Homo sapiens: one gene and its partners. The protein of the gene in region 1 interacts with the protein of each later gene in a pairwise test. Each region holds a gene or a part of one and is shown on either strand. Other genes may lie near its edges. The genes, in order: PTK6, ZNF341, MEIS2 and DDX17.

The links.
Region 2: the proteins of PTK6 (region 1) and ZNF341 interact in binary tests that used the Homo sapiens proteins (3 or more experiments, as listed by UniProt).
Region 3: the proteins of PTK6 (region 1) and MEIS2 interact in binary tests that used the Homo sapiens proteins (3 or more experiments, as listed by UniProt).
Region 4: the proteins of PTK6 (region 1) and DDX17 interact in binary tests that used the Homo sapiens proteins (3 or more experiments, as listed by UniProt).

What each region holds. Positions count from the first base shown.
Region 1 is NC_000020.11:63,534,354-63,541,233, forward strand, and holds the start of PTK6 (protein-tyrosine kinase 6), read right to left. Parts: upstream 3,024-6,880; 5' UTR 2,962-3,023; coding exon 2,732-2,961; intron 707-2,731; coding exon 585-706; intron 1-584. Other genes in the region: tyrosine-protein kinase Srms, read right to left, coding at 6,465-6,646, 6,838-6,880. UniProt on the Homo sapiens protein: Non-receptor tyrosine-protein kinase implicated in the regulation of a variety of signaling pathways that control the differentiation and maintenance of normal epithelia, as well as tumor growth.
Region 2 is NC_000020.11:33,734,985-33,742,008, forward strand, and holds part of ZNF341 (zinc finger protein 341), read left to right. Parts: intron 1-5,917; coding exon 5,918-6,028; intron 6,029-7,024. UniProt on the Homo sapiens protein: Transcriptional activator of STAT3 involved in the regulation of immune homeostasis. Also able to activate STAT1 transcription.
Region 3 is NC_000015.10:37,090,527-37,097,550, forward strand, and holds part of MEIS2 (homeobox protein Meis2), read right to left. Parts: intron 5,905-7,024; coding exon 5,763-5,904; intron 5,089-5,762; coding exon 5,038-5,088; intron 4,052-5,037; coding exon 4,001-4,051; intron 3,205-4,000; coding exon 3,055-3,204; intron 1-3,054. UniProt on the Homo sapiens protein: Involved in transcriptional regulation. Binds to HOX or PBX proteins to form dimers, or to a DNA-bound dimer of PBX and HOX proteins and thought to have a role in stabilization of the homeoprotein-DNA complex.
Region 4 is NC_000022.11:38,496,312-38,503,335, forward strand, and holds part of DDX17 (probable ATP-dependent RNA helicase DDX17 isoform 1 precursor), read right to left. Parts: intron 4,970-7,024; coding exon 4,819-4,969; intron 3,189-4,818; coding exon 3,089-3,188; intron 2,263-3,088; coding exon 2,129-2,262; intron 1,840-2,128; coding exon 1,774-1,839; intron 1-1,773. UniProt on the Homo sapiens protein: As an RNA helicase, unwinds RNA and alters RNA structures through ATP binding and hydrolysis.

The DNA of each region.
Region 1 (6,880 bases):
CCGACGCCTCCCTGCGTCCCCAGCCCTGCTGGCCACACCTGCGCAGAGTTTCTGGGTCCCCACAGTTGCTGTTGGTGCTTCCTCAGTACCACCCCTGCCTCCCCTCCCTCAGAACGGCTCCCTCCTGCCCTGCACGCTCTGGCCAAGCTCTCTGGCCCCTCCTGCCCCCGTGCCAGGCAGCCAGTGGCCTCCGCCTGGATGGCAGCTGCCTAAAATCCCAGCCATGCTGAGATCCTCAGGGGCAGGGATGGGGTTTCTCTGCGCCCCGCACACCCCAGGCTCAGGTCTCATGCTGGGCGAGGTTCCCATGGGTGCTGAGGACCTCCCACGAGTGCCTCGGGCAGGGCTGGCTGGAGAAGCCCCTGCCCTCCCAGGGAGGGGCCCTGCCCCACGACTACCCTAGCAGCCAGTGACCCAGGCCCCAGGGAGGAGCGGGCCAGGTGGGCGGAGGGGATGGGAGCTCCCTGGAGAGGAGCCCATGTCCCCCGTCTCAGCCAGAGCGAGCCGGGTTCACCACGTGGCTGGGAGGGCTTAGAGCCAGGAGCCCCCGCAGGCAAGCACAGGCTCGGAGGCCGGGGCCGCACCCGACAGGACGTAGTCGGCACTCGGCTTCTCGCTGACCCTGATCAGGAAGGCGCCCGTGGCGTTGCCCTCGGCCTGCAGCCGACGCACAGCTTCCGAGCGGGAGATGCAGCCAAAGAACCACCTGCAGGGGAGGAGTCTGAGAACACGCGGACCTGGGCCCACCCCACGTGGACCCCACGCTGGCCCCAGCCTGCCCGCCTGGAACCCCAGCCGCCCTTGCCTGCCACCTCAAGCTCCCAGCCCTGACCACAGCTGCTCTCAGGAGCTGTCGCTGACCCAGACGCCCTGAATGTCCCGAAAGGCCAGGACAGGCCCCTGAGGACCCGGCGGGGGCAGGGGCAGGCGCTACCACACCCTGCCCTGAGTGGCCCGAGTCTAGGGGTCAGAGCCTAGGGTGGAGCTGGGGAGGGCAGCTGAGCAGGATGGCTGCCCAGAGCTGCCTGCACACACCCATGTGTGACGCACGCTCACACACACACAGTCACAAACCCCCACACATGCGCACAGTTCACCCGCACACCTGAACACACACGCGCATGTGTGCTCACTTGCCCACACGCTCACACGCACGCACACACAGCCACTCGCGCGCACTAACTCCCGGCTGCGGGGTGTGGGCCAGCCCTGGACTGTGGACTTCCAGGTGGAGCTTGCAGAAGCTCCAGGTGACCTGCGCCCTTTGTGTGTCTGACTCCCTCAGGTCACTGGAACACAAACCCCACACAGAAGACCACGGCCCAGCATGGAGCCCCTGGGGTCCACCCCCTCCACTTCCGCACACCTGGAAGCACTGCCCCACCTGCCCCTCCAACCACCTGGCCTCCCGCCCCCCCCCTCACCTGGCCTCCCGCCCCCTCCTCACCTGGCCTCCCGCCCCCTCCTCACCTGGCCTCCCGCCCCCCCCCTCACCTGGCCTCCCGCCCCCTCCTCACCTGGCCTCCCGCCCCCTCCTCACCTGGCCTCCCGCCCCCCCCTCACCTGGCCTCCCACCCCGTCCTCACCTGGCCTCCCGCACCCCCCTCACCTGGCCTCCCGCCCCCCCCTCACCTGGCCTCCCGCCCCCTCCTCACCTGGCCTCCCGCCCCCTCCTCTCCTGGCCTCCCGCCCCCTCCTCTCCTGGCCTCCCGTCCCCTCCTCTCCTGGTCTCCCGCCCCCCCCACCTGGCCTCCCGCCCCCCCTCACCTGGCCTCCAGCCCCCCCCACCTAGCCTCCCGCTCCCCCCCCCACCTGGCCTCCCACCCCCTCCTCACCTGGCCTCCTCCCCACTTCTCACCTGGGCGAGTTCTCAGGACTCAGGGTCTTTGCACCTGGGAGCTGACCAGCCTCCGGCCAGACCCCACCCCTGCACCCCTGCTCACTAACGAGGTCGTGGGTCTGCGCGTGACCCTGCTAACGAGGTCGTGGGTCTGCACGTAATAGAGGGGTCTCCACCATGGGCCCCTGCCCGACGGCCTCTTTACAGCCTCCCCTGCTTGTTGCTTGGGTCCCCCGGGAGCTAACCCTACACAGCCTGTGACTCACGCACACACACAGTGGGTGCCCAATCACTGATGAGAAACGCGGGATCTCAGGAGCGTGACCCTCCTCAGCCTGAGCTCCGGGCAGCTGTGGAAGCCAGGGCCAGGCCACACCAGCTGCTGTCTGGTTCCCCGCAGGGCACAGCAGGCAGGAAGTTTGCCCGGCAGCCGGCCCGCTCCCCTAACTAGGTCGTGTGTCTGGTTCCGGCACTTTGGAAACTGGGCAAGCTTCAAGCTTCGTTTCCCCCAAAGGCCCTGGAACGCTCCGACAGACCTTGTCACTGGCCACCGGGCCCCAGAAGTCCACCCTGGACCCTCTGTCCTCCCTGGGTCCCGGCAATGCAGCGTCCACCCCCGAGCTGTGACAAGGATGAGCCCAAGGCAGGGGCCGTGCCCTCTGACCCCCGTGCTCCAACTCCCGCAGGGACAGTCCTGGGCACTCCTGGGCGCCAGCGCATGGGGCCTGCAGGGAGGATCAAGCGGGATGCCCAGCCTGGACTTTGGGGTGCAGGAAGATGGAACCGGGGTCCCCACCTTCTTGGGCCTCCCTGAGCAGCCCAGAGCCCTGTCCCTCCCCTGTGCCTAGAGGGTGGCCTGTGCCAAAGCTCCCAGCAGCCTAGGACACGCACGGTTCCGACTCCACCGTCTCCCTCTCGGCCAGGTAGTTGTGGGGCACATAGCCCTGGGCCACGGCCCCACCCGCCTCGTCCAGCAGCGTGGCCCACCACCACTGCTCCTCCTTCCTGGCCACGTGGAAGACGTCCCCCGCGCGGAAGCTCAGCTCCTCGTCCGTCCGGGACTTGAAGTCCCAGAGGCCCACATACTTGGGGCCCAGGTGAGCCTGGTCCCGGGACACCATGGCGGGCGGGCGCAGCGGCAGGACCAGGCTGTGGCCCAGCTGGAGCACCCAGAGCTGGGCGTGGCAGGCGGGCCGTCCCACTTCCTCATGACAGGCCGGGAAGCAGCCACACCCAGCACCCACAGGCGCTCCAGAGCACCCCGGCTCCTCCTGAGGGCCCAGCCGGCCCCACAAGTCCTCAGGCCCACTGGGGCCCATCTGAGCACTTAGCGCCCGCACTATGGGAACCCACTGGGCAAGCACCGCCAGGGCCGGCCTGAGCGCAGGAGAGGGGGAGGAGGACCTCCCGGTTGGGGCTTCTTGGGGGTCCAACTTATGGACACTCAGGCACTCAGGGAAGCCAACGGCCCTCTGGGAACAAGCCTCGCAGCCTGAGGGCAGGAAGGTGAGGGCTGCAGGCGCTGCCTTCCCAACCCTCAGAGCTGCGGGGGCACAGGTGGGGGCCGCCTCTCTCCCCGCTTCCGGCAGCTTCCCCTCCACCCGTCGGTGCCCTCACCCAGCCCCAGACTCCACCCCTGAGCACAGGGCCCAATGTCAGGAGCTGCTGTGGGCAGGCGTCCTGAGAGCGGCCTCATGGGCAGGCCCGCCCTCGGGTAAGGGCCAAGCAGGGAAGAGGGAGTGGAATCAGGGCAGCGACAGCTGTGTGGGTCGGCCCGGAGGACTTCCCGGAAGAGGAGGGCCCGAGGGTTTTGGGGGATCCCCGGGGAGGCAGAGCCAGGGGCACCCACGGCTGAAGAAACGGGCACTGCCTTCCTCCACACGGACGCCAGGGGGCAGGCAAGGACCGTGAGTGCGGCCTGGAAGCGCCCATGGCGCTGGGGCCCAAGGCCACAGGTCCCTCCCAGGCAGCCCCTCCCGCCTCCAGCCTCTGCCTCCTCCTGTCCAGCCCGCAGGACCCCTGCCCCCTTCCAGCTGGCCTCCCTTCTCCCGACTCATGCCTGAGTGAGCCCTGCCGTGACCCCCACCTGCACCCGACGGCCGCCTGCCCCCCAGCCCCTGAGACTCGGGACACCCCCTCCCTGGAGGCCCCTCCCCGCCCCACCCTCCCACTGACCCTACTGTGTCCACCCGGGAGCTCCAACCCAGGGACCTGGACTGGCAGCCACAAGGGGGCAGGAAGGGGCGGGAAGGGAAATTCAAAGTCTGCAAGGGGTGGTAAGGAAAGTCCCTAAACTGCGTATTTCAACTTTTATTTTTATTGCAAAGAGAAATAATGGCACCTTCCACTCATTGTTTTGAGATTAAGAACAATAATCTGGATTATTTAACAGGCTCATAGATTTCTGGGCAGCCCAGCTCAGCGCTGACCAAGGTGGGGAGGGGCAGCGGGGTGCCGGCCTGGGCAGTGTCCCTCAGGCCCTCCCAGCTCTGTCTGGGGTCGGTTGGGGAGGATGCAGGGGGAGGGGTGGGGGGTGGGGAATGCGGAAGGAGGGTGCCGGGGCACCTGGCCGGGCAGCGTCCCTCAGAGCCCGGCCAGACTCTGGGCCCGTGAGTCTATGTCCAGGAAGCCTCGAGTATCCCTGAGTTCGGACGTGCAGGACTTTCAGTCTAAGCCACACCAGGAGGCAGGAACGTCCCCAGCCCCTCCCAGATACCCAGGAGCACCAAACCTGTTCAGCTGGTGGCTGGCGAGATGCCTAGGAGGGCACAGGTGCCACAGACACACCTGGTCCCCTTAATCCCAGTGGCGGCTGCAGAGAGCACAGAGGGCGAGGCCTTCTGTGCCAGAGGAGCCCCCAGGCTGCTGTGCTGGGGACCTGCCAGAACTGGAAGCTCAGCTCAAGGCCTCAGTGGGCCCAGGTACCAGAACCAGCCCCTCCCCTAGGTTCTCCCATGCAGATGGAGCTGGGCAGGTGGCCAGGGTCCCAAAGGCTCAGATAAAGCCTCTTGCCTCCACCATCTGCAGGGGTCCTGGTTCCTGCTGCTTCCCTCCGCTTGGCCTTGTTCCTCCGATGCACGGGCCCCAGGAAGCCCCCGCGCTGCCTCCGTTCTCGGAGCCTCCGAGTGGCCTCTTCCTTCCCCGGGGCCACCTGTCTCTGCACACGGGAGTCTCATCTCTTAGCTCCCTCCTGAGCCAGGCTTTGGCCGGGGCCTGTGGACGGCAGCCATCAGCACTTCGGCTCAGCAGGTACAGAGCTGACCCCAACTCTAGGGGACAAGGACTCAGTCAGGCCTGAACTTGTCTCCAAACTTTCTGTCCCCGAAAGCCTTCTGGGCACAGCTGCCAACCTGGGCTCCCAGGAGGGTGGGGGGCAGGGTCTCCGGGGGCCACAAACAGACCCCACCGGCCCCCTTGCTTCTTGACGTGTTTCACGAAGACCTGAGCAGAAGCTTCCCTGAGCCAGACGTGGGGAGACGAGGGCGGACCCTGCACATCCCTGCCCCCTCCTGCCTTGGTGACCCCCGAGGACTCACACCCAGAGGCTTCCTGAGCCACTTGCTGCCCAGCATACCATGGCATCTACCTCCGAGCCCCCAACCGACCCTGCCTGACCCTGCACAGGCAGAAGACTCCAAATCCCCCACGGCCCACCCTGAGGCCCCTGGAAATAGCCTCCAAGGGCAGCTCCCAGGTCACCAAGCCTCCCGGCCCACCCTTCCTGTGCCACCTGGAACCCACCCAGGGAGATGGAATCGGCAGCTCCTGCCAATGCCCTTGGGGCTCACGCTCTCTGGGCACCATGATGTCCTGGGCTGGGGGTCCGGGCGGCATGGGGGCCGCTCCAACCTGCATTTTCTAGCCACGTGGACCCGTACGCTCCAGCTCCTGGGTCTGGGTTTGGGGGGCTGAGCCTGTGTGTGATGTGCGCCTGTGTGCGTGTCTGAGTGGGTCAGTCCCGGCTTACTGAGTGCTGTGTGCGTGAGTGGGTTTGTGCACAGGCCGCCAGTGTGTCTGTGAGGGGCAGGTGACGGTGCCACCCCGTGCCTACATACCACACATCCAGTGGGGTCAACACCACGGTCTGCCTGGGAGTCAGCACTGGTCATTTCCACAAACCCAAGCTGGGACTAGGGAGAGAACTGGGCCTTTGGCTCTTCACCCTGGGAGGGAGTCCAGGGGACCCAGGCAGGAGACACACAGGGCTCAGGGTTCCTCACCCAGAGCCTCCGAGGCTTCTACCCACCCTCCTGTGCCGTTGTCTCTCTTGAGAGGCCAGGGACACGTGTCACACTGCACGGGGAACGTCAGCCCCAGCCCTCCGTCTGCACGAGTCACACTGCACGGGGAACGTCAGCCCCAGCCCTTCGTCTGCACGAGTCACACTGCATGGGGGACGTCAGCCCCAGCCCTCCGTCTGCACGAGTCACACTGCACGGGGGACGTCAGCCCCAGCCCTCCGTCTGCACGTCTGCCTGGTGCACGAACATGTGTGCACGCCAGGGCCTGAGGCCCACAGCCAGAGGCTCCTCGGTCCGGCAGACCGGCATCCCTTCGAGTTGGCGCTCTGCAGGGAGGAGGGGCTGGCCTGGCTGGAGCCCAGAGCGTTGGGTCACGTGAGGACTCAGGGGTGGCATCTGTGGATGGCGTGCAGCTTCTCCCGCAGCGTGGCGAAGGAGGGCCGTTCCTCGGGGCTGCTCCTCCAGCACTCCAGCATGAGCACGTAGACCTCCGCCGGGCAGGCAGCCGGGCGCGGCAGCCGGTACCCTCGCATGATCTGCTGCAGCGTCTCGTGGTTGGTCATCCCTGGGAGGCGCGGGGCAAGAGCTGCCTCGATTCTGCCTGGGGGTCCCTATGGAGGAGGCCTCCTGTAGCCCCCCATGTCATCTGCCTGCCCTTGGCCAGACCCTCCAACCCCTTGCCGACAGCGTCCAGGCCCGGGGCCAGTGACTCCTGGGCAGAGCCTGCATCCTCCCTCTGGCTGCCTGGGGACCCACCTTCATAGGGACACTGGCCATAGGTGAAAACCTCGTGCAGCAG
Region 2 (7,024 bases), about 30 Mb from region 1:
CATGAGCCACTGAGCCTGGCCCAGGCTGCCTTTTTAATTTAATTTAACTTAATTTTTTATTTTTTTGTGACACTCTCACTCTGTCACCCAAGCTGGACTGGGGTGGTGCGATCTTGGCTCACTGCAACCTCTGCCTCCCAGGTTCAAGCGATTCTCCTGCCTCAGCCTCTTGAGTAGCTGGGATTACAGGCGCTTACCACCACGCCTGACTAATTTTGTATTTTTTAGTAGAGACGGGGTTTCACCATGTTGGCCAGGCTAGTCTCGAACTCTTGACCTCAAGTGATCTGCCCGCCTTGGCCTCCAAAGTGATGGGATTGCAGGCGTGAGGCACTGTGTCCAGCCAGCCTTTTTTATTTTTATTTGTAGAGACAGGATCTCACTCTGTCTCCAAAGCTGGAGTGCAGTAGTGCATTCATAGCTCACTGCAGCCTCAAACTCCTGGGCTCAAGTGATCCTCCCACCTCAGCCTCCCAGGTGCGTGCCAGGACACCCAGCCAATTTTTTAAATTTTCTAGAGATGAGGTCTTGCTATGTTGCCCAGGTTGATCTTGAACTCCTAGCATCAAGCAGTCCTCCTGCATTGACTTCCCAAAGTGTTAGGATTACAGGCATGAGGCACTGTACCCACCCTGCATTTGTTTAAATTTTTTTATTTTGAAATCACTTTTTCTGTAGATTCACATGCAGTTGTGGGAAATGATAAAGAGAGATCCCACGTGTCCTTGACCCCATTTCCCCTGGTGTAACATTTTGCACAACTACAGTGTGTTACCACCAGTCAACATACAGAACAGGGGCATCACTCCAAGGAGTTGCCCTTTTATAGCCACACCCTAAATCCTCCCCTTCTCCCACCATCCTTGATGCCTGGCAACCACTAATCTGTCTCCATTTGTAAAATTTTGTGATTTCAAGAATACTATATAAATGAAATCATAAAGTGTATACCATTGAGATGGGCTTTTTTCACCCGTCATAATTCCCTAGTGATTCATCCAAGTTGTTGTGTATAGCAATAGTTTGTTCCTTTTTATTGCTTAGTAGTATTCCATAGTATGGCTATTTCACCATTTAACCACTCACTGAAGAACATCTGAACTGTTTCCAGTTTTTACTATTTTTTTTTTTAGACCCTGTCTCAAAAAAAAAAAAAAGTAAAAACTGGAAACAGTTCAGATGTTCTTCTGAACCATTTCCTACACCCTCTATCTCCTCTACTACCTTCTGGCCCTCCTCCCCCACTCTAGTGGGGCTTAAGCCCCCCACCATTCTGAAACTGCCTCTGCAAAAATTGTAACAGTGAGAAAATCATGACAGAGAAAGACGCCTGACCTAACCAATCCCTACCTTGCCTTTAACCTCCAAACTGCCCTTAGTCATCCCCGGGCTTGGGCCAAGCTAACTTCGGCAGAAATTTAATTTACAGTTTAAATGATAATAGCCCTTCCCCAAAACTAAACTGTCTTTGTAAAGCTATTGAAAGACCACCAGGTTTTCACCTGGGCAACATGGGGAGATTCCATCTCAAAGTGTTCACTGTTGCCCAGGCTGGAGTGCAGTGGCATGATCTTGGCTCACTGCAACCTCCACATCCCAAGTTCAAGCGATTCTCCTGCCTCAGCCTCCCGAGTAGCTGGGACTACAGGTGCGTGCCTCCACACCCAGCTAATTTTTTCTATTTTTAGTAGGGACGGGTTTCACCATGTTGCCCAGGCTAAATTTTTTACTGTTATACCTAAAAGTGCTATGAACATTTGTATACAGATTTGCACACAAATGCTAAAACACTCACAATTTTGCATAAAATGGTAGAAGATTCACTGAAGCTTGTTCAGGAGAGCTTGAACCCCAGGCTTGAAACTCCAGATATTGGAAGGAAGTAGACTGGGGTGAGTGAGACTGCCCAGGGACAGCATGAGAGGCAGAGGTGAGAGAGTCCAGACAAAGGAACAAAGGACAAAGTGTTTCCTCAAAATGGAAACACTTAGGGGGTGGCCAGGAGAAGAGAGTAAAGGAGGCACAGAAAGGTAGAGAAGACCCAGGAAGGCTGTGCCCTGGAGCCAAGAACAGAGTGTTTCAGGGAGTGGCAGGTGCTGCCAGATGGTCTTTGGTGATGATGGGGAAAGTGTTTTGGTGGAACTGTAACCATCCAATGGGTTCATTTTGCCTGCTGCCCAGATACAGCCAATTTATCAAGACAGGGGAATTGCGACAGAGAAAAAGTTACATTCACACAGAGCCAGCTGAACAGGAGACTGGAATTGTGTTATTACTCAAATCAGCCTCCTAGAAAATTCAGAGACTAGGTTTTTTATTTTTATTTATTTATTTATTTTTTATTTTTTATTTTTTGAGACGTAGTCTCGCTCTGTTGCCCAGGCTGGAGTGCAATGGCGTGATCTCACCTCACTGCAACCTCCGCCTCCTGGGTTCACGCCATTCTCCTGCCTCAGCCTCCCAAGTAGCTGGGACTGCAGGCACCTGCCACCATGCCCGGCTAATTTTTTATATTTTTAGTAAGGATGGGGTTTTACCGTATTAGCCAGGATGGTCTTGATCTCCTGACCTCATGATCTGCCCACCTTGGCCTCCCAAAATGCTGGGATTACAGGCGTGAGCCACCATGCCCAGCCAGACACTAGGTTTTTTCAAAGATAGTTTGGGGGACAAGGGAATGGGTGCTGTTGATTGGTTGGAGGTGCAATCATAGAGTTGTGGAAAATGGTCCTCCTACATGCAGAGTCTGCTTCTGGGTGGGGCTGCAGGACTCATTGGCGAGTCTACGTGGAGCCATTGGTTGTCAGAAATGCAAAAATCTGAAAAGATATCTCAAAAGGCTAATCTTAGGTTCTATAATAATGATGTTGGGGCCAGGTGCGGTGGCTCACACCTGTAACCCCAGCACTTTGGGAGGTCAAGGCGGGCAGATCACCTGAGGTCAGGAGTTTGAGACCAGCCTGACCAACATGGAGAAACCCTGTCATTACTAAAAGTACAAAATTAGCCAGGCATGGGGGCGTGTGCCTATAATCCCAGCTACTCGGGAGGCTGAGGCAGGAAAGTTGCTTGAACCCGGGAGACAGAGGTTGCAGTGAGCCAAGATTGCGCCATTGCACTCCAGCCTGGGCAACAAGAGTGAAACTCCATCTCAAAAAAAAAAAAAAAAGTTGGCCAGGCGTGGTGGCTCATGCCTGTATTCCCAGCACTTTGGGAGGCCAAGGTGGGAGGATCCCTTGAGTGCAAGAGTTTGAGACTGTCCTGGGCAACATAGGGAGATTCTATCTCAAAATAATAATAATGATAATAATATTATATGCAGGAGTAATTGGGGAAGTTGCAAATCTTGTGATCTCTGGAATAATGGCTGGTAATATTTATGTCTACACCTTACCAGAATGTAGGTTCCTCTTATCCTCCTAACCTCATGGTCTTTCATTAGCTTCACAAAGGAGGGTTAGTTTTGGGGAAGGGCTATTATCATTTAAACTGTAAACTAAATTTCTCCCTAGTTATCTTGGCCCAAGCCCAGGGATTACTAAGGGCAGTTTGGAGGTTAAAGGCAAGATGGGGGTTCGTTAGGTCAGGTGTCTTTCACTGTCATGATTTTCTCACTTTGCAACTTTTTCAAAGGTGGTTCCAGATAGTGGAGGGCTTAAGTCCCACTAGAGTGGGGAAGGAGAACTGGAAGGTGGTAGAAGAGATAGAGGGTGTAGGTGACCCTCATGGGATACTTGCCATTGAAGGGAGGAGAGATGGAAACATGAATTTGCAGGAGGGCACTCTGGAGAGACTGATCGTGTGTAGCTGTGGATGGTTCCCAGGCACAGTGTGGTGAGAGTTGGTGGAGAGTGGCTTCTGAGGAGCAGGAGGAGATGGAGGGGAGGGCTGCGCTGGCAGCGTCAGGAGGGACACAGCCTGCATTGTGACAAGGGAAGGCATGGATTCAGTTTGGCTGCAGTAGCTGATGGTTTCAATTTTTTATTTTATTTTATTTTATTTTTGAGACGGAGTCTCACTCTGTCACCCAGGCTGGAGTGCAGTGGCGCCATCTCCGCTCACTGCAACCTCCACCTCCCGGGTTCAAGCAGTTCTCTGCCTCAGCCTCCCTAGTAGCTGGGATTACAGGCACCCACCACCATGCCCAGCTAATTTTTGTATTTTTAGTAGAGATGGGGTTTCACCATCTTGGCCAGGCTAGTCTTGAATTCCTAACCTCGTGATTCACCCGCCCCTGCCTCCCAAAGTGCTGGAATTACAGGCGTGAGCCACCATGCCCGGCCAGAGATAACTGGTCTGATGGTTTCAATTTGCATTGCAGTTAGAAGCTGGGGAAGACATCCCAGTAAAAGCTGAGAGGTTGGAGGCAGAGCATCGGCTGTGGGGTCATAGAGAGGAGGCACCATCTGGGTCTTTTGGGAGTGGCACAGTGTGCCTTGGTGGCCACTGAGATGTGAGGAGGCCTGTCATCCGGCTAGTGACATGGCCAGACAGTGTACTACTGTGAACTTCAACTGTGATAACTGATTAGAAAACATGGAAGAAGTCAGTTTCTCGATCCCCCAGCCACCAATTCAGAGTCTATTGTTTATTGCAGAACAAAAAAGATAGACACACATTGAGAAATAAGGAAGGCAAGGACGCCCGCGTGCACACAGATTTGTGGGGTTTGGGGAGTGTGCATGAGGAAAACTGGCTAACGTGATTTCTGGAGGGACTTTGTCACCTAGGATTAGCGTCAGCCATGAGTAAGACAGGCCCCACGTCACAGTGGCTTCAACAGGCTGGAAGGTTATTTCTTTCACATGAAAGTCCAGAGGAAGGCAGTCTAAGATAGGAAGATGGCTGTGTTCTACAAGGTTCTCAGAGGCCCAGGATTTATCCAGCTTTTTTTTTTGAGACAGAGTTTCGCTCTTGTTGCCCAGGCTGGAGTGCAGTGGCAGGATCTCAGCTCACTGCAACCTCTGCCTCCTGGGTCCAAGTGATTCTCCTGCCTCAGTCTCCCAAGTAGTTGGGATTACAGGCACACACCACCACGCCCAGCTAATTTTGTATTTTTAGTAGAGACAGGGTCTCACCATGTTGGCCAGGATGGTCTCGAACTCCTGACCTCAGGTGCTCTGCCCGCCTTGGCCACCCAGAGTGTTGGGATTACAGGCGTGAGCCACTGCGCCTGGCTCCATCCAGCTTTTTATCCTACGATCCTAAGGTTGTCCTTATGATCCAGGATGGTGGATTGAGTTGCTACCACCATATTCTTATTCTGGGAAGTGGAAAGGAGGATGGGACAAAGAAGAGGGTCACATATCAGGCAGTTTTAAGAAAACTTTCCAGAAGCTGCCACATAGCACATTTACATTCCTTTGGCCAGAACTTAGTCATTCCCTAACTGTAAGAGAGCCTGGGAAGTGTAACCTTTATTTGGGGGCCATCTTTGCAGCCCAAAATCTTGGGCTCTCTCACAATGGAAATAGAAGAGAATGTATATTGGGGCATAGCCGGCCATCCTTGCCATGGGGTTTTGTCTTGCTTGAGACAGGGTCTTGCTCTGTCAAGAGCAAGTACAGTGGAGTGAGGTGATATGATCATGGCTCACTGTACCCTTGACCATCCAGGCTCAAGCAGTCCTCCCGCCTCAGCCTCCCTAGTAGCTGGGACCACAGGCATGCACCACCAAGCCTACCTAAATTTTGTATTTTTTTGTAGAGGTGGAGTCTCACTATGTTGCTGCCTAGAATGGTCTTAAACTCCTGGGCTCAAGCGATCTCCCACCTTAGCCTCCCATGGTGCTGGGATTACAGGTCTGAGCCACCGTACCCAGCCGCCACAGGGGTTTTGCCTGGGTCTGGCTTGTAAGGGTGATGTCAGAGCATGATGCTGGGCCTACCTTCCAAAGAGGCTGCACTTCTTTTTTCAGGAATGGACAATCAGACCGTTCTGGCTGTCCAGTCATTATTGGATGGCCAAGGAGCAGTCCCTGATCCGACAGGCCAGAGTGTCAATGCGCCCCCTGCTATCCAGCCATTGGGTGAGTATCTGCTCAGGTTCACCGGTGGGAGAGTGAATGGCTCCCCGCGAAGAGTAGGTGGAGCTTGTGCTGGGCTGTGGGAGTGAAATGCTTGCTGTGGTCCCCAGGACATGCTCTGGTGTCTGAACCCTCTCCCCCGCCTCCCAGCCGGGATCTTTGGGCTCACGGCTTTCTCTGCTTAGCTCTGAGGACACTGCTCTCAATTGCTTAGTAAATGTGGGGAGATGGGATCAAGATGCAGGGAATGGCTAAGGGCCCCAATGCCTGACAACAATGCCTGTGCCTTTGCCCTGGAAGTGATTATTCAGCCTCCCTTCTGTGGAAAGAATAGGCTGAGCATGAATTGCTCCTGTTTACTGGGCCAGGCCTGTAAGGGTCTTCTTTTTTTTTTTTTTCTTTTTTTTCTTTTTGAGACAGAGTGTTACTCTGTCCTCCAGGCTGGAGTGCAGGGCACGATCTTGGCTCACTGCAACCTCCACCTCCTAGGTTCAAGCAATTCTCATACCTCAGCCTCCTGCGTAGCTGGGATTACAGGCGTGCGCCACCACGCCTGGCTAATTTTTTGTATTTTTAATAGAGATGGGGTTTCACCATGTTGGCCAGGCTGGTCTCAAACGCCTGACCTAAGGTGATCTGCTCACCTCAGCCTCCTAAAGTGCTGGGATTACCTGCATGAGCCACTGCACCTGGCCTGTAAGGGCCTTCTTTTGGAAGTTTCTATGTGAGACTGTGTTCATTTATTCATTCCACAAACATTTTTGTGTACTTGGGAATCACACTAGGGGCAGGGAGATAAATGGCTGGGTTTGAATTATTGTTCTTATAGTTCTTAGCTCTGTGACCGTGGGCAAGTGAGTGAATTTCTCTGTGGTTCAGTTCCTACACCTGTAAAATAGGGACAATTGTTCTGCCTCATAGGAATCTTATGAGAGTACTTGGGATTTGGTTCTAGCTGTTGAAGTTTACCATGGTTTCTACAAGATTAAAGTTTGTTTC
Region 3 (7,024 bases), on another chromosome or scaffold:
TATTTATTACTTTTATTTATTTACATTTTCAAATTCTTTTAAAGAATACTGAAACTATATTGGTACCTAATATTTTGCTTCTGATGCATTTCTCTCTGCTTTTCTCTCTCTCCTTGCATGTTCCTTCCTTAAACATGCACACACACGAGTATGCACACACACACACAATGAAGCTGGATACCACTTAATAAGAGTAGAGGTGTATGTGTTTTGGGGGTGTCAAACAGCTGTCACAAACTGTCACCTCCACAAGAGAAACCTTGGCATACAACAAATTAAACTACACTTCTTTTTTAGCTGTCATTATTCATAGCCAATAAGTTGAAATGCTCTCAGCATTTCATGTGCAAATAAAACCAAGAGGAAGCTCAGATCAGAATAGTGGGCCAACAGATAAAACAAGAAAACAACGCGCTGTCTGGGCCTTTCTGAAGTGGCTCATCATCACCCCTGCACCAGTGTTCACCAAATGAGATCCAGCCTGGGGCAATGTATTAAATATGCATATCAAAGCAAATGAAAAATAAACCTGAAGATTCAAATTGGGCACATTTACATGCTGAAAATGTCCCACTCACACCACTTTTCAGGTAGTGGTTCTTTGTTATTTTTACTTTGTGTTTGGCTAGGGGGTTGAAGGAAGGCAACTTTGTAGAAGAGGCTGAAAAGCATAAGAGGATTTGCTTTGAAGGGGGAAGCCTGGACATGAATACAATCAATACACCTATGGTACAAAAGTCTCAAAAATGGTGAAAACTCTCCAAGGTTTTCTCTCATGTCCCTGCATAAAATACAAGTCTGTGGCAAATCTCTCCGTTTTCTACTTGGTGTGCTGGTGGAACAAATTATTGCTTCCTTTCAAAACAAATAGCAGGGGGCTAAAGTAAAAATGTTATAGTTCAGATCTCTAGGAAATAAAAGGCTTTAAATTATGACACCCAATGAAGTGGCAAGCCCTCATGGGTTCAAAATAAATCAGTTGTCATATTTACTTGACTGGGGGCCTGAAAGGAGAGCAACAAATGTTACAGTTGACTCTTTTATCCAAAGATGATGATTGATAAATTATTAAAGCACTATCCTCTTAGGTACAACTTCCTTCTTGAGTGGATATTTAAATATTACAATAGTCTCATAAATTGATATTGTCTATCAGCCAATACTTTAAACAGCCTATTTTATCTTATCTTTTCTATGTAAACATCAACATGGTCTAGCTGTATACATCCACTGGAAAAAGAGTTGCCAAGAAACTGTTTTAGAAAACTAAGTAGTAGGTACTCCTAGAAATATCATGAGAAAAGCTTTTGGCTCCGAGAACTGTGAACCTCTCATTTTACAAACCATGTAAATAGATCCCTCCCCAGTCTCCCAATAATGTGAATAAATATAAATATAGAAACAGAAAACAATGAAAATAAACACACAAAAAACAACAAATGTAAATATTTCTTAGGTAGTGTCATGCCTCATGGACCACAACACACTGTGGAGCCACAGATCAGCAAATAAACTTTCCATAACCACTGCTGCATCCTTTTGATTTCATTACATTCACTCAATATACAAAGGAGATCACCAAAGATTCCCTCACCATGATGGAAAAAGGTAAGGGTAAAGAGATAAGAATAGGAGCCTTCAACACCGCAGTATTTATTCTGTCACAGAACTGGATATCCCAGACTGCGGTTTTCTTTTCTAGACTTTTTCTAACTTTTGTTCTTAGGCTGGCTTCCCATACAAGTGCAAAGGTTAATTATGAAAATCTATGACTGCATATTTTCAAAACTTTTGTCTGGAGCAGGGGAGAGAAGAACCTCATAGAAGGTTTATACTAAGGCATCCCAATTCATTTCTCATACCAGTCAGGAATTGGGATGGGAGGTAGGGACAAACTGCCTTCAAGCCTTAATGCCTGTTTAACTCACACGGAGTGTCAAATTAATATTTCGGCCACAAAGTTATTAAACTACAGCTTATATTATTTAGGCTGTGAGTTCAACTGAATGTAATCTATAGACACCCTGTCCCCCATTTCCAGGCTTGAGTTCCTATAAATAAAACTGCTGTTCACACCCACTCTTTAACCTCGCCACTCTTGCCTTTCCTACCAGCTGCAATCTTTCTTCTCTTTGCTTCTTTTTCAAATTTTCAGTCTCACTACATATGCTTTTTTTTTTTTTTTTTTTTTTTTTTTTTTTTTTTTTTTTTTTTTTTTTTTAGCATCAGACTCACTAGATTGGTTCCAAAATAGGATTAGAAACAGAGAGAATAGAAAGAAATCTCCTTTCCTGGCCTGACATACACAGTCATTTCTTACTATACTCTCCATCCTCATTCACCAACTGTTAAAGTGTTAAAATTCAACCACTAACCTATGGTTACTCAATCATAATTCCCTTCAGCTTTCTGTAATACATTGTTAATAATTGGTTCATCAAGGTTACTGTCTTTTATTATGAAGATGCTTCAGGCATTTGGCAATAAGTCCCTATTCTGACAATAAGTTTCTATAGCAAAAGCCCTGAGAATTGTAATGTGTTTGTTCACCCCTTTTATTTCGAATGCAGTGCAAGATTGCCAATAATTCTCAGAATTGTCATCTCTGTGACATACTAGGAAATCAGCACTCACTCAATTCTCTTTCATTCAGTCCTCTCTCTCCAGACCAGTCCAGCTAACTGTCTTGCTTCTTTCTATCCCTGCTGCACTGATTACACAAAATTAAGAAAGCAGAAAACACAGTGGTGACTATATCAAACAGAATTTGCGAACACCCAAGTCACCAAATCCAGAAAACTTTACACATTAAGAGCACAAATCACTCTATCAACTCTGGTTTTTTGGCTCTCAACATAAATAGGAGGGGGTCCAAGAAAGGAGAAATGAAAATGAAGGGTATGGCAGAGAAAGCAAGAAAGAGAAGAAAAGACCCCAAAAGAGACGGAGTCATTTAAAAAGAAAACTAAATCAGTGGAGCTAGATGTTAAAACAAGGTTAAAATAATGCTTTGCCCAGTGGCCTTAAAAGATTGCTAAAGGCTAGCAGACTTACATGGTCAGCGAGATTTGTGGAGGAGCCTGAAAGTTCTTCATGATCTGACTTGGAGCTGCCGTCTCTTTCATCAATGACGAGGTCGATGGGCATTTTCCCCTTCAAACAGCTAATGTATCGGTGGCAGAAGTTATCGCACAGTTCGTGGACCTAGAACGAAGGTCATGGTGGAGGGTTTAGCTCATGTTGTTGTTGTTGTTGTTTTGTTTCATTTTTAGAAAGGAAAAATACCAGGTTGCAAGGTTACATTTGCAAAGAGCAACAGTGTGATGTCTTCCAAACTAACTCTAATTAAAGGGTGTAATAGTTGAAGGCAAGGAAACAATAGAGTAATTGTTGCAGCAGATATTATTCTCCAGAGACTTCTCTGAGCAACAAGTTACAATAGAGAGAGAAAGAAACAGGACTGGAAATAACTGGGTTCAGAGTGGGAGTCCAGGGAATTAAATCTGATTTGATAATAACATCAAAACATTACAACATTGGAGCTGGGGAGAGCATTAACGTTTGTGATTTTATAAGCTAGGGGTTTCGTATGTTTCCAGGGGAAAGTAATTGAGCTGCAGAGCAATGTAAAGACACCCAGCAAGGATGATTCACTCTGCCTGCACCTAATGCAAACCCAGGGCCGAGGGTGAGCTGAGCTAATAAAGATGCAAGCAGGCTGAGTGTCCAGTAACATAAATGGTTTGCTGCATTTCAAAATAATCCTGAATGCCTGAGGGGAATATTGGGGAGGAGGAGGCTACTTTAAAGGCAAGGCTGTCCTGATTCACCCACCCTCTGAGCCCCTGTGTTGAGAAGCGAGTTGAAGGATGGACATGGTTACATGCTCAAAATCTCCAGGTGCTCAATCCCTCACACTAGAGGTTTGTTAAAAACATCCCAACTCAACTAGGAGAGGGAAATGGTTTAATCAACACGGGGAGCGTTATTTCCTGCTTACCTTTTCTAACTCCAAAAGATGAAACCTTAGTACTTGTATTGCTTGTATCATCTGAAAGAAAAGTTCAGGGAATGGAGTTAGAGCTCTGTGACTCTGAGGTCCTGTCTTGGGGTTGGGAGTGGGGTGAGGATGGTGGTGAGAAAGTTGGGCTGGGGAGAAGAAACGGGCAGGTGGCCAGGAAAAACTTAAACATCAAGAAATAGTCAGAAAAATCAAGTGATTACTGATCATCTCTGCCTCATTGGCCACGGGGTAGGAATCTGACTCAACCTGAGCATAAGCATTAATATCTTTCCCCCTGATGTTCACTGTGCTATTTGTAAGACTGCTTTCCTCGGGCCAGGCCTTTTTTCTCCTCTTAGTCCTCTTTAAACATCCCCTCCCTCGACCTCAGGACAACTTTTTTTTTTTTCCTTAAAAAAAAAAAAAAAAAAAAAAGGTCCCTTCTCAGGATAGAAAAAGCTTTTTAGAACAGCATACCCAGCGAAATCCTTCCTCACTAAAGAAGGAAATACTCAAGATGAATGCTGAGGCAGGGCCTTTGAAAGCGGATTTAAGTACTTTTAATATTGAAATCGTGCAAATTAGCAAAAGAATCGCACCTAAAAGTGGCCTGCGCTGGCCTGCCCCTCACCGCCCCCCAGCCCCCACCCCCAGCCCGCCCTCAGCCGTGCCAGTGGTTACATCCTTCGGGTTAGCCGCCCGGGGCTCGGCCGCCTGCCCCGGCAAACAGAGGAAATAACTCACTTCTCGCAGTTTACTCCTGGGGCCGAGACCTGGGAAACATCCCCTGCTCGCGCTCTCGGCGCTCGGTCTCCCGTTTCGGCCTCCCTGGGCTTCGCTCCCCACCGCGTTCATCCTGCTCCTCGCTCGCCAGCTCCCGTGCGGGGGCTCTAAGCTGCTCCCTTCCTCCCTCTCTCCCTAGAGCTCCAAAAGAGGGTTCTGTTCTAACTCCCCAGAGCTCCAGCAGAAAGTGGGTGCTTCTGGGCATGGGAGAGGGCAAAGGCTGGGGAAAAACAAGGAACAGAGAGCCTTACCAAATTGTCCAGCTCTGGATTTGAGGAAAAAAGTGGCTTTTCGGCGCGAACCTGTAAGAAACAGAGAGTCAACTTGAACGATCACCCCATTTAAAATAAGAAAGCTGAAATGTGAGAATGGGTACGGTGGAGGGCAATGGCGGAGAAGAGGAAAGGGGCTTTGGCAAAATACAAGAAAGAAACTGGTGCCTTAAATTAGTGGAGTCCCTGAAGAAGAATCAGGGCATTCTGGTCCTGGCCCCATTAAGGGGGACCTGGTACGACTAAGCTGTAGCCAGGAACTCAGGGTCGTTCTCAGGGCCTCGAGTTCCATATCCAGCAGTCCAAGAGGCTGTGGCTCTCCACTGCTGCCTGGGACCGCTCGGAGAGGCGCCCAGCTTCCTTGCCTCCCGGGCACTCCCGGGTCCCTCACAGCCCCTCTCCCCAATTCTTGTTCAAGTAGCTGGAGGCGGGGGAAAAAGGCCAAGCCCCAGATTAGGAGCAGGTCAACTTTAATTCGAGGGTCGACCCCTGTATTCCTGCTGGGGGGGAAAACAAACACCCATATTTATCTCCACTTCCAATTCGCCCCCAGGCTCAGGGATGGGGAGGAGGCGTAGAGAGCGGACTGGGCCAGAGGAACAGATAGGGTGTCCCTGGCCTTTCCTCCTTTCAAGTAAAGCTCCGAGGAAAGGGGAGGGGTAGTGAGGGACTGCCCGAAGTTGAGTGGATCAAGAAGGCTGGACCTGCTTGGCGAAGACCGCGATGTCCTCGTTGAAGGAGTCGGAGGAGCAGACGTCTCCGCCAGCCACTCCAGGTTCCCGGGGAGTGCAGGTCGCCAGCTCGCACTTCTCAAAGACCAGAGCTAACAGAGGAAACAACGGGTGCCTAACGGGCAGCGCCACGCAGAGACACACACACAGAGACGGGGTGCAGAGGGGAAGGAGCAAGAACTGTAATCAACAAGTTTGGAGGGTGTGGAGTCCTTCTTTAATACAACAGGCACGCACCACACTTTACAACCCTTCCTCCATCAGGCGAGCCTAAGCCAGAAACAGAAAGGGAAAAGGGCCTGGCCCTCTCCCGCAGCTCAGAGGTCCCTCAGATCTGGCCAGAGAAGACCCCGGCCACTGCAGCCCGACAAATAAAAACAGCCTCAGTTGGAACGTAATGAAACATCCGAGACGCTCAGGCAGTCTGGAGCCCGAGTCGATTCTGATCCACTCCCCACACTACGGAGGCCGCGGAACCAACCCCTGAGACCCAGCCCTGACCTCCCAAGAAGGGAACACTGTGTGAAATTGAAAAAAAAATAGTTTTAACTCTGCATTTTAATGGGCATTTCAGACGAGGCCAAAGGCTTCACCTACATACACACCGGAGTGACACTTCATAAATGCAAGAGAATGCTCTTTTAATCTCTCCACCTCCTTGCCTTATAAACTTGTTTGCTCCTGTTCTACTAAAGCCACAGTGTGGGGGCCAAAATAATAGGAAGGTTACACACTGGAGAGCTTCCTTCCAAAGACCACATTTCTCCCAGCGTTGCAGCAGACAAAAATAAATAAATCGTGTTTTAAAACTTTAAGTGTGCGTGCGCGTATGCCCTTTGTGTTCCTCCGGGCGGCTTAGCCACACTTCGGGATGCTTGCGGCCTCTGGCTTGGGGCTCAGTTGCTGTTTACCCACTGTCCCCTCCCCTCGGCATCCCGTCGCTTTGCCCACCTACCCTCAGCCGGAAGAGCTCGTGTGGTACACGTTAGGATCGTGCATCTCACCCCTCGCCAAGTGCTCTCAGAATATAAAATAATTTCCAGCCATCTTCCTTACTCCCCCTAAGAGCGGCTCCAAGCAAGCAAGAGTCCCTTCCACCTCGCTGCACTTCGAGGTCTGCCCCCTTTATTTACAGAGAATTAAGAAGTGGGTGATTAGGACTTCCTGGCCGACAGAAGCAGCCCTGATCCCAGCTCAAGCTGCTGTTAGTGACTCCCAGACCCTCAGTAGGAAAC
Region 4 (7,024 bases), on another chromosome or scaffold:
CATTTACTTTGAGGATCATATTGGTCCTCAAAATTTGGATTTGTTTTGTTTTCTGAGACAAAGTCTCACTCTATCGCCCAGGCTGGAGTGCAGTGGTGCAATGAAGGCTCACTGTAACCTCTGCTTCCTGGGTTCAAATGATTCTCCTGCGCCTCAGCCTCCTGAGTAGCTGGGACTAGAGGCAGGCACCACCATGCCCAGCTAATTATTGTATTTTTGTAGAGATGGGGGTTTCCCCATGTTGGCCAGGCTAGTCTCGAACTCCTGACTTCATGTGATCTGCCCACTTTGGCCTCCCAAAGTGCTGGGATTACAGGTGTGAGCCACCATGCCTGGCCTAAAATTTGGAATTTTGGATGGTCATCCTGACTTAAACTGGCAGAATGACACATTCCTGACCTCTAATTTAAGCACATCACCAGGTAGATAAGGCAAAAACAATGAAAATTTACATGTAATCTGACAAGACTGTGTACAATCTGGCCAAATAATACAAAAATCAAGGTATCATATACCATTCAAATTAAATTATGAAACTTGCTTTATATACTGATCCATTAGATATCAACTAATAATAATGCTGTCAGACATATACTATGTATTATAAGTACTGCATTATTTCTTTTTGTGAATATCTTGAGACATATTGTACATGTTCATAAATATATAGGACAAATGCAAGCTTATTTCTTAAAAAAGTTAAGTAGGCCGGGCGTGGTGGCTCACACCTGTAATCCCATTATTTTGGGAGGCCGAGGCAGATCACCTGAGGTCAGGAGTTCGAGACCAGTCTGGCCAACATGGTGAAACCCCGTCTCTACTAAAAATACAAAAATTAGCTGGGTGTGGCGGCGCATGCCTGTAATCCCAGCTGCTTGGGAAGCCGAGACAGGAGAATCGCTTGAAGCCAGGAGGTGGAGGTTGCAATGAGCCGAGATTGTGCCAATGTACTCCAGCGTGGGCAACCAAGAGCGAAACTCCATCTCAAAAAAAAAAAAAAAAAAAAAAAAAGTACACATTCAATGCCAGGCGCGGTGGCTCACACCTGTAATCCCAGCACCTTGGGGAGGCCGAGGCAGGCAGATCACCTGAGGTCAGGAGTTCCAGACCAGCCTGGCCAACATGGTGCAAACCTGTCTCTACTAAAAATACAAACATTAGCTGGGAGTGGTGGTGCACGCCTTTAATCCCAGCTACTCGGGAGGCTGAGGCAGGAGAATGGCTTGAACCTGGCAGGCGGAGGTTGCAGTGAGCTGAGATCTCGCTACTGCACTCCAGCCTGGGCAACAAGAGTGAGAATATATCTCCAAAAAAAAAAAAAAAAAAGAAAGAAGGCTGGACGCAGTGGCTCATGCCTGTAATCCCAGCAATTTGGGAGGGCAAGGTGGGCTGATCACCTCAGGTCAGGAGTTTGAGACCAGCCTGACCAACACGGAGCGAACCTCCATCTCAAAAAAACACAAAAAATCAAAACAAAAAAACAAAAAAAACCACACCAAAACCAGAAAACACTTGATTTACTGCACAGTAAATGCCCATACAGCATGCATGGTTTCTTTAAGAGTAAGACTTTGGTTCAAATGTAAGCTCAGCTATTCAATTGCTGAGTGATCTTGGGTAAGTCATTTAATTCCAAGTAAGATGAGAATGAAACCATTTCCACCTATGGAGGGTGTGGTTAAGAGTACAAATGGATAATGTAAAGCACCAAGCCTAAATAGTCGCTAAATTGTAGTTTTTCTTAGAATTACAAAGAAACTGAAACACACTTACGATTGGGCCATCTCCCCTTTCCAAGTATGGCTGGTGGTTAATATGAACAATTGCAGGCAGGAGATACTGTGGAGGGGGGAAAGAATGACAACCTTACGCTTAGAAGTACAATCTTACTTAGATACTTAGTAATTACTGAATTAATGCATAAATAGGAAAGTGAAAAACAGAACTTACCACTGCTATATACAGGAAGCAATACAAATTTGAACATAAAATGCTTCCATATATTTAATAACTAAAATAGTATCTAACTATCTGAATGGCACTTCTACGAAGAACTGAGAACGTATGACAACTAGAATAGCAAAATAAGTTACCACAATATCAAGGATCTTCTCTTGCTCATACATACCGCCAACGTCTTCCCAGAGCCAGTCTGAGCAATGCCCACCATATCCCGGCCACTAAGAGCCAACGGAAATCCCTGGCACTGAATTGGAGTTGGTTCTGTAAAGTGCTGATCCATCAACACATCCATTACATATTCTGTAAGAGAATTTTATTTTGCGTATTTTATTGTGTTTAAAGACACAAACCAAGAGTTTTTAAAAAAACTTTTAAGCTCACTGAAGATAAGATTTACCCAGCTTCATCTCTCCAAAGTGCTTTTTCTTTATCTACTAGATCTCCGACCAACTCACTGTTAGCTTCTAAGGGCCAGGCTAGGTGGCTCACGCCTGTAATCCCATCACTTTGGGAGGCTGAGGCCAGTGGAGGCCAGGAGTTCCAGACCAGCCTGGTCAACATGGTGAACCCTGTCTCTACTAAAAATACAAAAATTAGCCAGAGTGGTGGTGGGCCCTTGTAATTCCAGCTACTCGGGAGGGTGAAGCAGAATCGCATGAACCCAGGAGGCAGAGGAGGTAGTGAGCTGAGATCGCGCCACTGCACTTCAGCCTGGGTGACAACGTTGAGACTCCGTTTCCAAAAACAAACAAACAAAAGCTGCTACAATAGTCTACCTCTCCCAGAAATTTGAAAAACCATTACCCTAAAGCATCTAACAGGACATGGGAACATGGTAGTCATTTATTGTTTAGCAAATTCACATTATATCCAGCTAGAAAGCAATTTCATTCTGCTGTTTTCTAAAAGGCAGAGGGCAAAACCCTAGAAAAAGACAAAAACCTCAAAAAAACAAAACAAAAACAAAACCTCAGTCTAAATACTAGAACAGAACTGATGACCATAAAAACAATCTCTTGTCCTTTCAACAAAACCCCAAGCCTGGCTCAAAGAGTTTAACCTACTACCCTTGTCTCCCATTCAACCCAATTTAACAAATTAAGGTTCTAGATTGAAGAACACTTACGTGGGAAGTTAGCATGATGGAAGGCAAACACGGGTTTAGGACAAACATCTCCCCCCCTCACTGTAATCTCCTTCTTTCGGCGTAGCTCATCAACCTCATACTATTGAAAAAAAATGAAAGAAGTTAGTAAACTAGTTATTCTAAACATTCAGAATTTATGTTCCAAGCTAGCTGAGCAATTATCCAGTCCACAGCTATGTTGGCAAATATTTAATAGTTTACATGGTACTTTCATGTGTATCACTTTAACTCTGCAAGGCTCCTACTTACTTTGTAAGTTAATTAATGATGTAGGTGATTAAGAGTTCCATTTTCTATAGGAGAAAAAAGATAAGTAACTTGCTCAAGGTCAGAATGAGAAGGAAAAAAAAGTGGAACTTGGACCCAAGTACTCTTTCCATTACACTTTCTTCTGAAAGAGTAACCATTTCATGTGTAGAGTCCAAAAAACAATGGTAATGAGGTACAAGAAGAGACAATGTTGGCTGGGCACGGTGGCTCCCACCTGTAATCCCAGCACTTTGGGAGGCTGAGGTGGGTGGATCACTTGAGGTCAGGAGTTTGAGACCAGCCTGGCCAACATGGTGAAACTCCGTCTCTACTGAAAAAAAAAAAATAAATAATAAATGAACCAGGCGTGGTGGCACATGTCTGTAATCCCAGCTACTCGGGAGGCTGAGGTGGGAGAATTGCTTGAACCTGGGAGGCAGAGGTTGCAGTGAGCCAAGATCATGCCACAGCACTCTAGCCTAGGGGACAGAGTGAGACTTCACCTCAAAAAAAAAAAAAGCCAATCTATCTTTTTCACTAACAGATGAAAAAACATGACCTAATATACAATATTTCAATCATGTATAATAAACAGATTAGTAAGCATTATCAACAAGAGAACAAATTAAATGCATATTTAAACTGGTCCCCTTTTATGAGTATTAGGGGTCTTAGATAAGAATGTAAGAAAGGCTGGGCATGGTGGCTCACACCCATAATCCCAGCACTTTGGGAGGCTGAGGCGGGCAGATCACAAGGTCAGGAGACGGAGACCAGTCTGATCAACATGGTGAAACCCTGACTCTTGCACTCCAGCCTGGGTGACAGAGCAAGATTCCGTCTCAAAAATAAAAAGAGGCTGGGCGTGGTGGCTCACGCCTGTAATCCCAGCACTTTGAGAGGCTGAGGCAGGTCGATCACCTGAGGTCCGAGGTCCGGAGTTTGAGACCAGCCTGCCCAACATAGTGAAACTCCATCTCTGCTAAAAATACAAAAAATTAGCCGGGCATGGTGGCGGGTGCCTGTGATCCCAGCTACCTGGGAGGCTGAGGCAGTAGAATCGCTTGAACCCAGGAGGCGGAGGTTGCAGTGAGCCAAGATCACACCATTGCACTCTAGCCTGGGCAACAAGAGCAAAACTCCGTCTCAAAAAAAAAAAAAAAAAAAAAAAAAAAAATCAGCTGGGTGCAGTGGCTCACGCCTGTAATCCTAGCACTTTGAAAAGCTGAGGCAGGTAGTTTGCTTGAGCTAGGGAGTTCAAGACCAGCCTGGGGAATATGGCGAAACCCGGTCTCTACAAAAAGGAAAAAAAAAAAAAAATTAACCAAAAAATTTTTTAAGAAAAATATCACCACACTAGAATAAAATGTAAAACGGCAACAGTAGCGTATGAATAAACTCTAACCAATATATCTACTTGGTTCAATAATCTGTACATTAAAACACACATGTAAACTTACTGGTGTCAGCCTTGCTACTTCCGGATGTTCCACATAAAAATTTTTCTCAAACTTGGGGAGCTCACTCAAATCCCACTTTTTTTTACGCAAACGCTCCCCAGGATTACCAAATTTCTTCGGGGGAAGGCCACCACCACCTCTTGCTCCAAATCTAGGAACAGAATTTTTAGTTAGTTCATCAGTATTTTTAAAGCAACGTATCGTACATGCCATAAGAATATTCAAAAAGGATGGAGTTCTAGGGATACTACCAGCCTACCTCCAAAAAGACCATTTTATTTGCTGTGATTTAAAGGTATGGAGAAATGTGTAAAACCTCCCTTACTACCCAACAATAAATACTGTTTATGAATATAGCTACAATAGGCAAAAAATTAAAAATCCCTTTATTGAGAGAAATACATCCTAGGGATTACAATCACAGATTCTGGATCCAGACATGGTTTGAGTTTTTATTCTGCCACTTACTGTATAATTTGAAGAGAATTATTTAACTTCCACACACCTTAGTTTCCTATGCAAAGTAGAAATAATACCACTTATTTCAGAGGCTGCTGAGAAAATGACCTAATAATGTGTAATGTACTATAAAAGTATCTGGCATAGCCAGCACTCAGTACAAGTTAGCATCATTTCATTCAACAAATAGTTATTAGGTACCAAGTTACTAGGTACCAAGTATGTATCGGCTACTGTTTGAAGTGGTGCTGTGCTGGAGTTACTAAACAAAACAGACACAAGTCTCTATTTTTGTGTAACAGACATGCAGGCAAAGGATGACATTAAGTTAAGTTTCAATTAAAGGGAAGATTGTGGACAAGAAGGAAGATACACTCCAAGCAAGTCCCTCAATCTTAGAATAGCTTCTTGGGCCTGCTCCCCTATTAAACTGTGATAAGCACTCCACCTGTCTGCTTATCTGCAAAGCAAAACTGGGTCTTGGAAAGGACTGGTAGACTGGTCTTCATTTTTAGCTTACGCTAATAAAAGAGCTGAGCCTGCCGGGGGCAGTGGCTCAGTCCTGTAATCCCAGCACTTTGGGAGGCGGAGGCCAGTGGATCACTTGAGGTCAGGAGTTTGAGACCAGCCTGGCCAATATAGTGAAACCCTGTCTCTTACTAAAAACACAAAAGAGTAGCCAGGCGTGGTGGTGCACGCCTGTAATCCCTAGCTACTTGGGAGGCTGAGGCAGGAGAACCGCTGGAACTCGGAAGGCGGAGGTTGCAGTGAGCTGAAATGGCACCATAGCACTCCAGCCTGGTAGACAGAGGGAGGGTCCGTCAAAAAAAAAAAAAAAAAGCTGAACATAGATTTATGACCTTTCCTTCTTCTTTGATCTCTACTTTTACCTTCTATCTCCTTCTTGTTCCCAAATGGTATTATTAATTTACAGAGAAAAAAACACTAACAAGACTTATTTAAGGCTTTAACACTCAACTAATTACTTAAGATCAACTTCTTGCTTTTTATATACCTTTCACAACAGACAAGCTCAAGAGGAATACAAATATGACCACTAGCCAAAGCTAATATTTAAGAAATCAGAAGCTACTTTTCCTAGAAGAATCTTAACACTAAGATGGCCTTAATTTTCCCTATTTCGATCTTGTAAAGTACAGGTCTTTGTTTGGCATACAAACTGTATAGCATTTTCTCAGTTTCTTTACTCCTTGTAAAATATTGTACTGAATTTAGTTCCCTTTTCCCACTCTAACCCACTTGTAACTTCATCTTATATAAAGTTCCACTTTATCATTGATAGGCAAGTAGGTGTATTATTCTACAGGGCCTCAATTTCCTGCAATTCAAAGCCATTAGAACTCTGGCTTAACCAGCCAGACATTCCTCTAAATACATACGTAACAAAAATTGATGGCAGGAGATTTTATTGGGATCACTGGATACCTACACTCAACAGGCAGAACTTGGCTAATTCCATTTATACCACTACTGAGACAGTGAAGACAAATTAAGAATCAGAACAGGAAGAGCACATAGCATAGGGATACCCGTGTCAGCGACATATTTAATATGCCCCTCAGCTTAAGACTCAATACTGAACAGACCAAAAGGCCACCTCAATTGCCGCTCCCGCCACACTTGCAAATGAAGCAGCTAAATAAGGTACTTTTCAAGAGGTAGAAAGTCTTTGGATTATCACTCTTGCAAATTATAAAAGACTTCATTGTTATTGCCACATTGCAAT